2 separate regions of the Homo sapiens genome follow, and region 1 is linked to region 2. The links come from fine-mapping of genetic effects on gene expression. Tissue or cell type: whole blood. Region 2 holds a variant in brackets; the other region holds the start of a gene. All regions are shown on one strand. Distances are from middle to middle.

Region 1 (8,105 bases), 31 kb after region 2:
CCAATAGGTATTATCACTAATGGAGCTTTAGAGATTTCCAGCAATCCTTTAGGAGACTGGGGCTAGCCTGTGAGCTGTAGACAGTCCAACTGTCCTAAGTAAAATACAGTACAGCCGTATTGTGCTTCATCTTCTGATCTCAACTTATCCTCCACCCTCTCCCTGCTCCCAGCTGCCCCACTCCTACACCACAATGCTCTCAGAAGTTGTGTAGCACAATGTACAAGAAGTTGCAAGTATTATTCTCAAGGAAGTACAGTATATGATGGGAAGGAGAGGGTTCTATTCACCAAAAATCATCTTAAGAAATAAGGATTTCTACTTTGGGAGGCCAAGGTGGGCAGATAACCTCAGGTCCGGAATTCGAGACCAGCCTGACCAACATGGTGAAACCCCGTCTCTATTAAAAATACAAAATTAGCTGGGCACGGTGGCGCATGCCTGTAATCCCAGCTAATCGGGAGGCTGAGGGAGGAGAATCACTTGAACCCGGGAGGCGGAGGTTGCGGTGAGTCAAGATCACGCCATTGCATTCCAGCCTGGGCAACAAGAGCAAAACTCCATCTCCCCTCCCCCCAAAAAAAAAAAGAAAGAAAGAAGGATTTCTTTGTTGAAAAAATTCTTTGACAGTTGCTTGGGGGTAGAAACTAACACCTGAGGGGTACAGATTTGGGTGGACTATCTGCAGAAGGCAAGCAGATGACTTTGTATGTTGTTCCACAGAGGGAATGGGAAGAGGAGAAAGGAAAGATAAGAGAGACGGGATGGAACCAGGAGATGTGAGCTCCTTGCCAGCCTGTCACTTAGGGCAGAAGGCAGCTTTAACACCATTAAAAGTCAATTTCAAAAAGTGTCTGTTTTTTAGCCGGGTATGGTGGCTCATGCCTGTAATCCCAGCACTTTGGGAGGCCAAGGTGGGCGGATCACCTGAGGTCAGGAGTTTGAGACCAGCCTGGCTAACATGGTGAAACTCCGTTTCTACAAAAAAAAAAAAAAAAAAAAAAAAAAAAAAAAAAAAAAATTAGCCAGGCGTGGAGGCGCGTGCCTATAATCCCAGTTACTCGGGAGGCTGAGGCAGGAGAATCGCTTGAACCTAGGAGCCGGAGGGTGTAGTAAGCCGAGATCGTGCCATTGCACTCCAGGTTGGGCAACAAGAGCAGAACTCCATCTCAAAAAAAAGTTAAAAAAAAACTCTGTTTTTAAAATATTCCAAAAAACATACAAAATATCCTAAAATTATGGACTCCTTTGAAGTACAATTATTTTGGTAAAAGATGAAAGATTTATAGGATCTGAAGAGAAACTAGAGAATCAAGTACAATTATTTGGATAAAAGATAGAAAAAGAAGAAGAAAATTTTTAAAAAGAAAACATTTGCATATAACAACTTTCTGAGCTTCTTGTTAAGAACCTGGTGAGCAGTAGGTGCTCCAAATTATTTCCTGCGTGAGTGACTCTCCTGCCACTCCCCACTTTCCCAACCTGTACTTCACACTCCAGCAACTACTTGTATTTCCTGTTTGCCATGCCTTTTCTCACTGTGTGTCTGTTGTGGTTGGAATATTCTCTGCCTATCTTTCCTTTCCCCACCCTCCTCCAAAAACACACTCTCTTGCCCACTAAGCAAGTTACTACTCATTTTTATCCCTGCCTCCTACTGTCTCCCATGGGAAAGGCAGTCTCTCATTTCCACCAGGTTTCAACTCAACAATCACAGAACTAGGCTGAGTGCAGTGGCTCATGCCTGTAATCCCAGCACTTTGGGAGGCCGAGGCAGATGAATCACCTGAGATCAGGAGTTCAAGACCAGCCTGGCCAACATGGTGCTAAAAATGCGAAATACTAAAAATGCGAAAATTAGCCGGGCATGGTGGCAGGCACCTACAGTCCCAGCTACTTGGGAGGCTGAGGCAGGAGCATCACTTGAACCTGGGAGGCAGAGGTTGCAGTGAGCTGAGATCGTGCCAATGCACTGCAGCCTGAGTGACAGAGCAAGACTCTGTATTAAAAAAAAAAAAAATCACAGAACTTCTCATTAAGGCCATCTCTGGCCATCTACTAAAATGCCAGCATCCCCACCCACACCCTCAAATCTTCACAGCCCTCTTCTGTGCTTTTCTCCTCAGTTCTTACTAATATTTAACATATTATATATTTTAACTTATTTGATCTGTTGTCTGTCTCCTTCAGTAGAATATAAAATCTATGAAGACATGGATTTTTGACTTTTTGTCTGCTACTCTGTCCCCCTTGCCTAGAACAGGACTTGATACACAGCGAGTGCTTAATATATGCAGAACGGATGGATGGATAGATGGCTGATTGAAGCTGCAGCTCAGGGACCATCTGTACCTGGAACCTCCAAGCAGATTTAGATGTTCTTTCCTCCTATATATATCTGCTCTTATCATATTGTATTAATACTTGTTTGTATGTTATTTTCCCCTCTGGGCTAGAAACTAATTTAAGGTTCAGGGCCTAACTGCTTCATCTTTATATAATTGGAAGTGAATATTTAGAGCTTGGTACCTGATATGTCTTTTCTTCTTTTTCTTTTTTTGAAACAGAGTCTCGCTCTGTCGCCCAGGCTAGAGTGCAGTGGCACATCTTTTCTATTTTTATTATTATTTATTTAAGACAGAGTCTTGCTCTGTCATCCAGGCTGGAGTGCAGTGGCATGAACACGGCTCACTACAGCCTTTAACTCCTGGGCTAGAGCAATCCTCCCACCTCAGCCTCCTGAGTAGCTGGGACTACAGGCACGTGCCACCACGCCCGGCTAATTTTTGTATTTTTAGTAGAGACAGGGTTTCACAATGTTGGCCAGGCTGGTCTCGAACTCCTGACCCATGATCTACCCGCCTCGGCCTCCCTAAGTGCTGGGATTACAGGTGTGAGCCACCGCGCCCAGCCTAGGTTAAATAACTTCTAAGGACACAACTAGTAAGCTGCAGCATTAAGATACTAATTCAAACGTATGTCATGCACCCCCTTTATTTTTCATTCTCATACTATCTTTTCTTCACCCTGCCACCTCTGCCCTACCATGTTCTGTCCTGCCCCCACATTTTTTATTTATTCATAGTCTACCCACTACTGCTAGTTCAAATTTCACATATTCAATGAAATCTTCCTTGATTACTCTTATTCATGTTAATTTCTCTTTTTTTTCCAGAAGGCTCCTGAGATAGCTCTCACGGTAAATGGGGGAGGTTATGACATGGGGCATGTGGCCTTGGAGAATAGCCTATTCAAGTCCTAACTGCTTTCACACTCAATATATATTCAGACTCTCCATGCAAAGGCCAATTTGTTTTGCAGGTAATGGATAAAGAACGAATCTCACCCTCCAGTGGTCCCCAATTTCAGGTAGTGTTTTCTCATGATATGGATGTATCTCCTAAGGCTGATGTGGCTGATGATGGATGCAATTGTTTGCATTATTTGGCTGAGTTAAGTTTCCCAGGAGTAGCTGCAGAATGGAGCAGATTTACAAGGGTTATCCGGACAAACAGCATCCCCACTTTGGGACTAGCATTTAGGACACCAGAAGTCTTTCCTTTCCCTTCTCCACCCCTGCTTCTGTTGGAAGCAGACTTCAACCCCTCCCAAATCTGACTCCTTCAGGGTTCCTACATGAGAAGCAAAAGCTCATTTCCTATTCGCCATTTCCTCATGCTAACACATCCAAAACAGAGAATTTTTGTTGGCTCAGCTGCTTTAATTTTTTTGGTAGAGGAAAATATATCAACATTAGAAACCATTGATTTTTGTTGCTGATGGTCCTTAGAAAGTAATGCAAAAAGTTGCTTAGAGTTAAAAAAGTATGCCTGATAATCTGCTTTCATTTCCTCCTTTCTCAAGGTGATACAATTACAATCAGAACCTGCAAAAAATCCACAGTAAATTCTTCTCTAATGCCTTTTGCACTTAAAATCTTTAGTAGATACCTTAGCATCTTATTCAGTAATAACATGCCAACTTAGTCTGTAACTAAATATTTGGTCTTCAATTGTGACTACATAAAATGCTGAAATATCTATAACTTGGGAAGCAGCAGTTATAAATGCAGGTCTGGTATTAGACAACCTGTGTTCAAATCGCACCTCTATCGTTTATTAACTGTGTGACATTAAGTTCCTTAACGTCTCTGATAGCCTCATTTTCCTCATCTTAAAATGGGATCCTATCATTTCATAAAGTTGTATTCTATATGAGTAATTAATAATGATAATAGTTCTTTGAAGGCCTACTACACTAGGAATTATGTTGAGCACTTCACACTCATTTTATCTAATTGTGAGAACAGGGCTTCGTACACTGTAGACAACCAAAACATACTGAATGATTGAGGCGGGGCTAATGAGGTCCGCAGCTGGCACGCCATTAGAGGAGTCGCGAGTGGAGCTCAGTCATGTCTGCCCACAAAGCGCCTGCGCTTGACCTCTACGTTATATTTACTTTGGCAATGTACAAAGTGGTGAGGACAGTCCTAGCCCGGAGGGCCCCTAACACATTGTCGTCTTCTTATCCTCGGCCCTCTGCGTTAGAGAGGGCTGCCCCGAATCGGCTTTGAACGCTGACTCGCCCTTTTCCAGTCGGCCCTTGAGCCCACTAGTCAGGGCTACAGCGTTTTCCTAACCGAGGTTCAGAGGTGAGATGGAAAATGTACCCGTCTTTATTCTGTTCTCTCCCCTGCAATGACAGGGTGAATGGCGGTGGGGTTGGGGGCACGTCTCCAGAGTCCCAGTCCGCTCGGGACCCGCGGACCGCCCGGAGGCGACAACGGCCCTGAAATTGGGGGGAGCTTGTTTCCAGCCGGACTGTGTCCCTGGGCGCGCCAGAGCGCCGCGCCTGCGCGCTCAGCCCGTTGCCGCGCCGGCCCTGCGGACGTGCGCGCGCTGCCTTCGCGGCACCTGGGCCTGAGGTGCGTGCCTCCCGGGCCCTCGCCAGCTCCAGATGCGTGAGGAGGACTTCAGAAACCCGACTGAGAAGTGGAGCGACCCCCAGGGAGGGTCGGACCTGCCTCAATACCGCCAAGGTGCCTGGGGACCCAAGAACGGGGGCTCCACAACCTCAGTTCCTGAGCTCCTTTTGCTTTCTCACTTCCCCACCTATTGAGTGCGTCTCACGCGGAGCAGAAATTTGAGAGGAAGGCGTAGAGGGATTTTTTTTTGTTGTTGCTGTGGGTTGTATCACATGTGGCGTTTTCATCCTGGCTGCAGCCAAAGCAGTTTTTACCCTTACCCTTCCTTTCCTGGCGTGGGATTTTGTGGTTTCTGGACTCGGCTCGACCATTACGTGCTTATTATTGGTTGTGGGCCTTTAGAACGAGGACTGTGTGTCAGTGTCCTTTGTCCAGTGTAGTCCACTGGGAGGGAGAGGTGAGGGTTCAAGGCCAAGAGAATGGGCCCGGGGCGAGTGGGGCAGAAGCAGCCGCCGGAGATTATTCCCCAACTGAAAGTTGTGTGTGTTTCTCTTAGGTCTTTCATTTCTTGTTCGCTTACTTTCGTGAAATCCTCACATCGTTTTAATGGTACTAGTCAAGACAAGAAAATCAACAGGCTTTCAGCCTTGAGGCAACATTGGATATTATTGAGGTCAGTTTTTACAGTTTTTACAGTCTTCACGTAGAGTATCTTGTTCTTGTCAGGATAAATTCTGGATTGAACCACTGAGCAGATCTACTATTCTTTTATTTCAGTTTAAGATAAGAAAAATTACAGTCTTTTTTATTTTTATGTTATCAACAAAAATCGGTTGAAATGGGATTTGGAGCTCCATGAGTGCGTGAGGTGAGGATCCCTAACCTGACTCTCATAAACAGGAGATAGGATCACCACTTGCCACTAATGGTTCTAACAATCTAGGGCTCCCAGTAAGTGCTTTTCCACGTGGTGGGAGGCAAGTGACAACAGTTATCCAATCTTAGTGCTAACAATGGATGATTAACCGTAGCTCCTTTTTGGTACAGGAGCTGTAGGTAGCCAATCCCTGTTTTAATCAGAGGTAGTTGTGGTGTGTGATTTTTTTCTTTTAGGCGTGTTCCACGAAAGCATTTATTAAAGGGAAGAAGAAACATACAAAAGGAATTGAATCTGGCTTTATACCAAAATCCTGTGTGATCATTCAGTCCTGACATTGGACAATTACCAGGCTTTGCCTGACTGGCCTCAAGGGCCAAGCTGTCCTCCCACACCATACTCGATATGGGCCGGTGCATTGCAGTTTTCTGGAGGGGGTTGCAGTCAAGGACTTGCCCTGCCCCTCCTGCTAGATATGCAAATCCCATAACTTCTTTCCTAGCCTGGGTACCTCCATTTGGAGGCCCTCCTAGGAAGGACCGTGGCTAAGACACTTTTCTCCATTTTTGACCCAGCTTCTTTCACTCCTAGACCTTCCCCTCCCTTTCCTATTCTGAAGTTCCATAAGAGGCAGGAGATTTTTGTTAGGGGCTCCTTTCAGTGAGAGGATTACCTCATATGCACTGCATCAACTGACCCTCACCCAGTGTCCTTGTATTTAGTAGACCACTGGGGAGCCAGTGCCTCTTTTTACCACTTGCTTGCACTGTCACAGTAAGTGAATAAAGGCTTGATTACTTTTGGTTTGACTCATTGTCCTGATTGACTACCTTGGCACCTAATTGCTGCCAAGTTCTTTGCAGTTCACTGGATTCATGACTTAATTTTAATTATCATGACTGTTGCTCTGTATCGGCATGTTTAGAGACTTTGGAGCTTGTTCACCTCTAATTTCTCTAATTCAAGCTACTGAAAATGCATATTCATAGCACCAAGAGTTGATTGTTGGTTAACATTGATATCTGGGTTATATGATATATTTTACTACTATACTGGCTTACAGTCAGATTGTTTTATTTTGCGTGGATTTATGTGGCATTTTCCATTTGGCCTGTAATTAGATGATTTTTATTTAAAATAAATATTTTGGAATAATATGGGTCAAGTGAAGAAAACCAGACACTTGCTTTCTTTAGTAATCTTGTCTCATACTATGGGCCCCTATCTTTCTCACCTTAATAGATCACTTGGCCACTTTGAATAAAGTGGTCGATTTGTTGTAGGTTCCTTTGTCTAGTATGAAGAGGCATGTTAAGAACAGCTTTCATAAACTTTTTTACTTCTTCCTACAGAAGTTTCACAAAACAATATTTATCCTTGCTATATAGTATGCAGTCTGATACTTTCTACTATTATTTATCCCCTATTTTTATTTATGTATTTATTTTTAAATTTTTTTTGAGAGTCTTGCTCTGTCTCCCAGGCTGGAGTGTGGTGGTGCAATCTTGGCGGCTCACTGCAACCTCCGTCTCCTGGGTTCAAGCAATTCTCCTGACTCAGCCTCCCAAGTAGCTGAAATTACAGGCATGTACCACCACACTCAGCTAATTTTTGTATTTTTAGTAGAGACAGGGTTTCACCATGTTGGCCAGGCTAGCCTCGAACTCCTGACCTCAGGTGATCCCCTGCCTCGGCCTCACAAAGTGCTGGGATTACAGGCATGAGCCACTATGCCAGCCTCCGCTCTTATTTTAAATAACAAAGTGCTGATCATGATCTGCTAAGTTGAATTCACAATCCATTAATGAGTAATATCCTGCAGTTTGAAAAACACTGTGATAAAGTAACTAAAGATATTTGTTCAGTAATTTTTTTTTTCTGTTTCTGATTCACATTGCTAAAGAACCACAGTGGGTATGTTTGTGATTTGGGGTTGAAGGTATCTTCTAGGAGAAAATAGTAACACCGTGTTTGTTGGATGTTTGCCAGATCAGCTGACAAAAGAACTCCAGACTTAGAACTCTCTGATCTAGAAGATACATTATATTGAAAGAGCTAGCACAGCTTTTAATTTTTTTTTGAAAAAATCTCTGACTCCTTTATTTAAGGGCAGTGCCATAGTAAAGTAATAATGAAAAGAAAATTGGCTTCTCTGATAGAAGATAGAGTATAAGATAGTTATGAAAGTGCTTGCTAAACTTTTTTTTTTTTTTTTTTTTGAGACAGTCTCTCGCTCTGTTGCCCAAGCTGGAGTGCAGTGGTGCAATCTTGGCTCAGTGCAACCTCCGCCTCCCCAGTTCA
Region 2 (8,105 bases):
AACTGAGATGCTCGTTCAGTCCCCAGGAGCCTCCACTGCTAAAGTTCCTCAGCTGAGCCACTCCCAGGAATTGTTATTGGGTAAGGGGAGCTGTCTTACTCAAGATTACATCCTCAACCCAAGGTCAGCCCACAGTGATTAGTCAATGCATGGGCGGGGTGGAGGGTATAAAGGCACAGCCTTAACTTTGAGGAGCTATGCCGGCTTTAAAGCTCACTGTAGGATTGTCTGGGTTCTTTAAAATTCCATCACAGTTCAACTTCTTTCTCACTCTGTCCAGCACTTTCCTCACTTTCTTACAGGTGTTGTTCCCTAGGGCTTCCTGCTTTAAACCTGTGACATGCAATTTTCATCTCAGAGTCTGTTCTCCTAGAAACTGAGCTATGATACTTTCCCACATGAAATACACCTCAGGGTAACAAAATAGTTGATGAGGGAAGGTTCTCTCAAGAATAAATAGAGACTACTCTGGGCACACTGCCTATGGGTTATCCCTGCTCCACAAGGAGCAATACCAAAAAGGAAAATAATAATTAAAAAATAAATTTGTAATGAAAAAAGAATCAATAATGGCAGGGCACGGTGGCTCATGCCTGTAATCCCAGCACTTTGGAGGCCAAGGCGGGCGGCTCAGTTGAGGCCAGGAGTTCAAGACCAGCCTGGCAACATAGCAAAACCCTGTCTCTACTAAACACACACACACACACACACGAAGGAAAAAGAATAAATAGAGAAACAACGATATAAGAATAACACCACTGGCCGGGTGCGGTGGCTGGCTCACACCTGTAATCCCAGCACTTTTGGAGGCCGAGGTGGGTGGATCATGAGGTCAGGAGATCAAGACCATACTGGCTAACACAGTGAAACCCCGTCTCTACTAAAACTATAAAAAATTGGCTAGCAGTGGTGACATGCACCTGTAGTCCCAGCTACTCAGGAGGCTGAGGCAGGAGAATCATTTGAACCCAGGAGGCAGAGGTTGCAGTGAGCCGAGATCATGCCACTGCATTCCAGCCTGGGCGACAGAGAGAGACTCCGTGTCAAAAAAAAAAAAAAAGAATAAGACCACTTTGCAAATTTCTAATTACATACTCTAGGCAATGATCATCAGTGGCTGCTAATATCACAAAAAGAGAGACCACTAGATATTATATGCCTCCTGATGGAAGTACACACCACCACCTGAAGGTATTCTTGCAAAAAATTTTAAACTGAATCAGACTAAATCTCTAAATCCAGCTAACAGTTTATAAGAGATACAAATACGCAGAGGATACAATCAGAAAAATCCAGAATGTAAGAGACTCAACTGGACAACCGAATTTCTTCAACATATAGCTTGCAAGGGAAAAGAGAGAGAGAGGAAGGAAGGAGAAACTTATGAACAAATTACAAACAAAGGGACTTTATTTGGTTTGTGATTTTTTTAAAAAGCAAAAACTTTTAAAATTTTTTTAGACAATCAGAAACTTGAACCCTCATTAGGTATTTGATAACATTAAAGAAATACCAGCCACACACGGTTCAAGCGATTCTCCTGCCTCAGCCTCCCAAGTAGCTGGGATTACAGGGGCCTGCCACCACATCCGGCTAATTTTGTATTTTTAGTAGAGATGGGGTTTCACCATGTTGGCCAGGCTGGTGTTGAACTCCTGGCCTCAGGTGATCCGCCTGCCTTGGCCTCCCAAAGTGCTGAGATTACAGGCGTGAGCCACCGTGCCTGGCCAACAATTAATACTTTTTTAGTGCAATTATTTCTCAAATATTTTTACTTGCTAAATCTGGCAACCCTACTTCAAATTCTTTTTCTTGCTTTTGCAGTTAATCATTTTTTGTTTTTTTTTTTTTGTCACAATTTGACTGCCTGTCCTAAAATGTTATCCATATGGTACTTCATTAAGGCAGCTAATATTTAAAACCTCTCATGTTAAGAAGCCGAGGGAGATTTCTAGTATTGTCACCTTAGAGATGGCAGTTCTGGCACAGGTATTTAATTTTGAGATCTCAAAATACCAGCAGAAAAATTGTCCCCTAGAGAATGAGGAATCTGGAAAGTGTTTTTGACAGATCTACCACATTCTTATACCACAAATGCTGCCACGTTGTTCTCTCTCCTCCTCCCCTTTCCTTTGCAATAACACAAACTGTATTAATCAGCCAGATAATGGCAGTGGTGAGTGGCGTTGATGAGAGCCTCCACTGTACTGACTGTGCTTACCCTCCCAGAGGTATGGCTTGAGGTGGGAAAAATGGAAACCAGAAAGTGGTCCCTTTAAAGATGACACATCTCTTCTATGTCTCCACAAAAGGAGACTCATATTTGTATTGTTTCAAAGCACTGTACTTTCCTACAGTTTGCTACTCAGAAAAGCTGGGAGTGGTTGAAGAGGTTAAACAACTGGCAAAAGGTTACACAACTTCGCTGGATCTTATATTTCTGATTTGCATCCCAGGATTCTTGGCACCATAATCTGGATAAGGTTGAGCTTTGGTAAAGTTAGAGAATCTATACACTGGAGTTCCTATGAACTGATCACAGTTCCAGTCCCAACTTTTAATCCTTCTAAGTAAGGGGCTCACTATGTACATAGCCTCAGACTCTCGGCTCATTCAATCACTCAGTACAGATTTCATGAACGTTGGACTAGCTATGAAGAAACAGTGATGGACAAAACAACAAAAGTCCTGTCTTCAGAGAGCTCACAGTTTAGGGGGAAACAGATAATTAAATATGTAATGACGATGAAATCTGATGAGTGTGGTGATAGGTGTCAGAACATACACTAAGAGTCTCTAACCTCTATGTTGAGGAAGGCTCCCAGAGAAAGCAATGTTTAAGCCTAGACCTAAAAGATGAATAAGAATGAGATAGATAGGTGTAGAGAGAGCGAGCAGGCAGAAGAGTGTTCCAGGTGGTGGGAATGGTGTGCAAAGGCCTGGAGGAGAACAGAGGTAATGCGGGGATGGGATGAGACAGAGCAGAACTAAAATGCAGGGATGCATGAGACAGGTCAGTAATTTTGTGCCTCTTCAAACTAATCTTTTTGACATATCTTTTTTTTTTTTTTTTGAGATGGAGTCTCGCTCTAACACCCAGGCTGGAGAGCAGAGGCACGATCTCCGCTCACTGCAAGCTCTGCCTCCCGCCTCCCAGGTTCAAGCCATTCTCCTGCCTCAGCCTCCCGAGTAGCTGGGACTACAGGCACCCGCCACCACGCCTGGCTAATTTTTTGTATTTTTTTAGTAGAGACGGGGTTTCACCGTATTAGCCAGGATGGTCTCGATCTCCTGACCTTGTGATCCACCCGCCTCAGCCTCCCAAAGTGCTGGGATTACAGGTGTGAGCCACCGCGCCCGGCTCTTTTTGACATATCTTAAAAATATTTATTTAAAGGAAAGGTTTATTAAGTCTGGAGAAGATGTGAAATGTAGTGGAGAGAATGCTGGTGGCTCCCCAGTGACTCCTTTGTGATCCTAAACAGGGACATTTGCATGCCTTGGACCCAAATCTGCAAAGCAAATCAGCCAAACAAAAGGCCTGCACCTAAGACCTGACCTCCTTAGACGCAGTTAAATGACCATTGATTGTGACTGAAGCAACTCCATGGGGTGCTTGTCCCCTCCTCCCAGTCACCACCCTAAGAAGCTTCTTCTT[C/T]TTTTTTTTTTTTTCTGAGACGGAGTCTCACACTGTCACCCGGGCTGGAGTGCAGTGGCGCAATCTCGGCTCACTGCAACCTCTGCCTCCCAGGTTCAAGTGATTCTCCTTGCCTTAACCTCCCAAGTAGCTGAGATTACAGGCACCCGCTACCACCCCTGGCTAATTTTTTTGTATTTTTAGTAGAGATGGGGTTTCACTATGTTGGCCAGGCTGGTCTTGAACCCCTGACCTCGTGATCTGCCCACTTCGGCTTCCCAAAGTGTTGGGATTACAGGTGTGAGCCACCTCACCTTGTCGAAGCTTCATTATTTCTATCTCATTGTATTTATATTTTTTGTTTTAGCACTCTTCCTGACTGGCTGGCTTTCCCAAATTCTGACTTGGTGGGAGGGAGATATGAGGCTGAGGAACTGGCAGGGGCCAAGAGTGTGAAGTTCACACATAGCTCACTCACTGGGCTGAGTCTTCAGGCCCATGCACAAGAGCACATCTTGACTAATTGCTGATGTGGGAGCAGCAATGTGGAAGAGAGCTGCAGTCCTCGAACCTCCTTAACGCCTTACAGATTCCTTGGTCCCATTCCTGACATAATTAAAATCAGAATTTCTAGGGATGGAATTTTGGAATTTGTATTTTCAAATTTCTTTCTGGGTGAATCTGGTATTAAACAACTCTGGGGCTCACCAGACTCTGTTGTAAAAAGTACACATTTCAGAGCCACTAAAACCTCAATTCAAACTCTGGCTCCAGCATTTACCTGTGTGATCTTGGCAAGTGGTTTTTTGTTTCATTTTGTTTTGTTTTGCCTGAGCTTCAGTTACTCCAGTTGGAGGAGGAGGAGGAGGAGCAGGAGGAGGAGCAGGAGGAGGAGCAGGAGAAGAAGGAGGAGGAGAAGGAGGAGGAGGAGAAGAAGGAGGAGGAGGAGGGAGGGGGAGGAGGAGGAGGGAGGGGGAGGAGGAGGAAGGGGAGGAAGAAATAACCTGGCAAATGGTTTTTTGTTTCATTTTGTTTTGTTTTACCTGAGCTTCAGTTACTCCAGTTGGAGGAGGAGCGGGGGGGGGGGGGGGGGGCGGGGCGGGGGCGGGGAGGAAGATATAACACGGCTAACTTCATATTATTAAAGGGTTAAATGAGATCATTAATAGCTAGTACTTGACCCAGTAGTCTATAATAGTAGTAGTCCCTATCTTACCTGACCTCACCTTCCCAGGATGCCAAGCTCAATTCTGGTACTAGCTCCCCCTGCAGCCCTACTTGCCCTCTGCTTTTATTTCCCAAGAACTTGTATTTTAACCTTTTTTCATCTTATAAGCAGCTTCTGTGGGGAATGACAGAGACAGTGGTCACTCCCTGCTGAGAAGAGGGACTGAAATTGAAGCCATGGGAAAAGGAGTCTGTTTAAACATTTCCCACCCCTGTCTGAGGCCCCACCTCAGGCACAAAAATCTTCCCAAGGAGCTGGTCATCCCTCCTAGTGAATGGATAAAGTTGCTGTAGGCTGATGAGGGTCAATTTGACTTTTTCTTGAACACCAGGCTCAGCACACAGAAATAGTTCTAAGGTAGTGGTGGCACATACACTGTGTTCCCCTAATGATTGGGGGGATCACTTCCAAGCACATCCATTCTTTTATTTATTTATTTTTTTATTTTTTATTTTGAGACGGAGTCTCGCTCTGTCGCCCAGGCTGGAGTGCAGTGGCGCGATCTCGGCTCACTGCAAGCTCCGCCTCCCAGGTTCATTCCATTCTCCTGCCTCAGCCTCCCGAGTAGCTGGGACTACAGGCGCCGACCACCACGCCCGGCTAATTTTTTTGTACTTTTAGTAGAGACGGGGTTTCACCGTGTTAACCAGGATGGTCTCCATCTCCTGACCTCGGGATCCGCCCACCTCTGCTTTCCAAAGAGCTGGGATTACAGGCGTGAGCTACCGCACCGTGCCTACATCCATTCCTTACTAAGAAAAAAACTGTCTATGGAAACAAACATCAGAATTCCCTTTAAACGCTGGGTGCAGTGGCTCACGCCTGTAATCCCAGCATTTTGGTAGGCTGAGGCGGGTGGATTGCCTGAGCTCAGGAGTTCATGACCAGCCTGGACAACGTGGTGAAACCCCGTCTCTACTAAAAATACAAAAATTAGCTGGGCATGGTGGTGCATGCCTGTAATCCCAGCTACTTGGGAGCCTGAGGCAGGAGAATCACTTGAACCTGGGAGGCAGAGGTTGCAGTGAGCCGAGATCATGCCCCTGCACTCTAGCCTGGGCGACAGAGTGAGACTCCATCTCAAAAAAAAAAAAAATTAAAAATTAAAAAAAAAAATTCCCTTTAACATAAGTACTGGGATTGCTTAGCACATTTTTGTCAGAATCGAGAGTATTCAAACTTGTTTCCATTTTCCTCTAAATATCCTTATAAACTAAGCTAAAGCACATTGTTTTATTAAAAACAACATCTTTTCTGATGGTAAAATTGGTATATGTTCATTAAACACAATTCAGAAAATAACAAATATACTATGTAAAGAAGAAAAGTTAAACCATCTCTAATCACCACCATGAAATAATAAAATTAACATTTTGATTTATTTCTTTCAAGTATTTTATATGCTTGAAAGAATATTTAGTAAAATTTGCATAATTCAATAGACTGTTTCTAAATCATGTTTTTTCACAATATTATATTGTGAATCTTTAGTATATTGCTAACAATTTTCAAAACTAAATTTTTATTGTTAACAATACTCTAGCATATAAATATTCTATAATTTATTTCCCTGTTGTTGGACTTTTGAGGTTTTTTTTTTTTCATTTTTTCTGCCATAAATATTAAGAGCTAAGTTTCTTGTTTACACTTTATCTTTGGGAAAACTGACTTAAAGAGGTTAAAGGGCTTGCTGCAGGGCTGGAACTGGAATACAAATTCTATACTACAGTCTAATTCCCTTTTTCATAGACCACAAATATTAATTTGTTGTAACACTATTAATCAATGCTTAGAGCATATTTGCCACTTCAATACATTTTATTTCCTGGCCTTTATTTTATTTATTTATTTATTTATTTATTCATTTTTTTGAGATGGAGTCTCGCTCTGTCACCCAGGCAGGAGTGCAGTGGCATGATCTCGATTCACTGCAACCTCCGCCTCCTGGGTTCAAGCAATTCTCCTGTCTCAGCCTCCCACATAGCTGGGATTACAGGCTGCACCACCATCCGCAGCTAATTTTTGTATTTTTAGTAGAGATGGGGTTTCACCATGTTGGCCAGTCTGGTCTCAAACTCCTGATCTCAGGTGATCCGCCCACCTCAGCCTCCCAAAGTGCTGGGATTACAGTCATGAGCCACCGCACCTGGCCCTGGCCTTTATTTTAAAAGTAAGCATTGGCTGGGTGCAGTGGCTCATGCCTGTAATCCCAACACTTTGGGAGGCAGAGGCAGGTGGGTCACCTGAGGTCAGGCATTTGAGACTAGCCTGACCAACATGGTGAAACCCCATCTCTACTAAAAAAAAAAAAAAAAAACACTACAAAAATAAGGCAGGCATAGTGGCATGTACCTGTAATCTCAGCTACCTGGGAGGCTGAGGCAGGAAAATCGCTTGAACCTGGGAGGCAGAGGTTGCAGTGAGCTGAGACTGCACCACTGCACTCCAGCCTGGGCAACAAGAGTGAAACTCTGTCTCAAATAAATAAATAAATAATAAAAGCAAGCATTACCAACAATGTGGGAGAATATGAGTGGAGTATGTATGTGGTCCCAAAGTTGGGGTAAGTGGGAGTGAGGAACCCCTGTAACTCCCATCTTCATTTCTGCCTCTTCTCATTGCACCAACTTCCCCAACTGAAACACCTTATACTGATAATATCCCTTCCTGGTTTGATTCATAAAACAAAATAAAGTTTCTCCAGTGCTTGGCATATTCATCAAGACATCAGCCCCAGCATTTACATTTTAGTGCTTCCCTTTCTTTACTTGATTTCCAGTCTCTCTCTCTCCCTCTGTCTCTCTCTCTCTCTCTCTCTCTCTCTCTCTCTCTCTGTCTGTCTGTCTCTCTCTCACACACACACACGCAGGCTGATTGGTCTTTGATTTTCAGTAGAAATTGTTGGTATTTGTAGCTGTGCTTGATCACATAGGTGAAAAGATATACTTACAGAATAAGAACTACCCTATGACCGTCCTTCTTTCATGTTGCTTAAAGCTATACTTCAAAGGAATACAGCACCACTTTAAGGAAAGACTCAGGCCTGAGGACCTAGAAGCCCAAGTTCCAAGTTTTGGGGCTGAGCTCTGTTACTAACTTCAGTCTGACCTTGGACAAGTTTCTTGTCTCTGTGATCACATTCCATCTTTATTAGAGGATTTTGAGGATTCCTTCTATTTCTGACATGAAATAATTTTAAACAGACTTGTTCCTTAGATGCTCTTTTAGAACATCTCTGAA

Evidence for each region. PIP is the estimated chance that this variant, and not a neighbour inherited with it, causes the effect.
Region 1: ZNF770 starts here. The variant in region 2 is fine-mapped to the expression of ZNF770 in whole blood (INTERVAL, PIP above 0.99).

The regions. Positions count from the first base shown.
Region 1 is chr15:34,985,052-34,993,156 of GRCh38, reverse strand. ZNF770 (zinc finger protein 770) reads left to right here and starts at 4,870. Exons shown (of 3, transcript NM_014106.4): 1 at 4,870-5,041; 2 at 5,484-5,600. LOC105370764 (a long non-coding RNA gene) reads right to left here and starts at 4,799. Exons shown (of 5, transcript NR_188212.1): 1 at 4,673-4,799; 2 at 3,347-3,472. RefSeq lists enhancers at 4,686-4,775, 6,182-6,231, 6,312-6,371, 7,355-8,007.
Region 2 is chr15:35,016,008-35,024,112 of GRCh38, reverse strand. It overlaps LOC105370763 (a long non-coding RNA gene), which reads left to right and starts at 7,323. Exons shown (of 3, transcript XR_932098.3): 1 at 7,323-8,105. RefSeq lists an enhancer at 3,291-3,983. The variant C/T (reference allele first, on the strand shown) is at 3,659.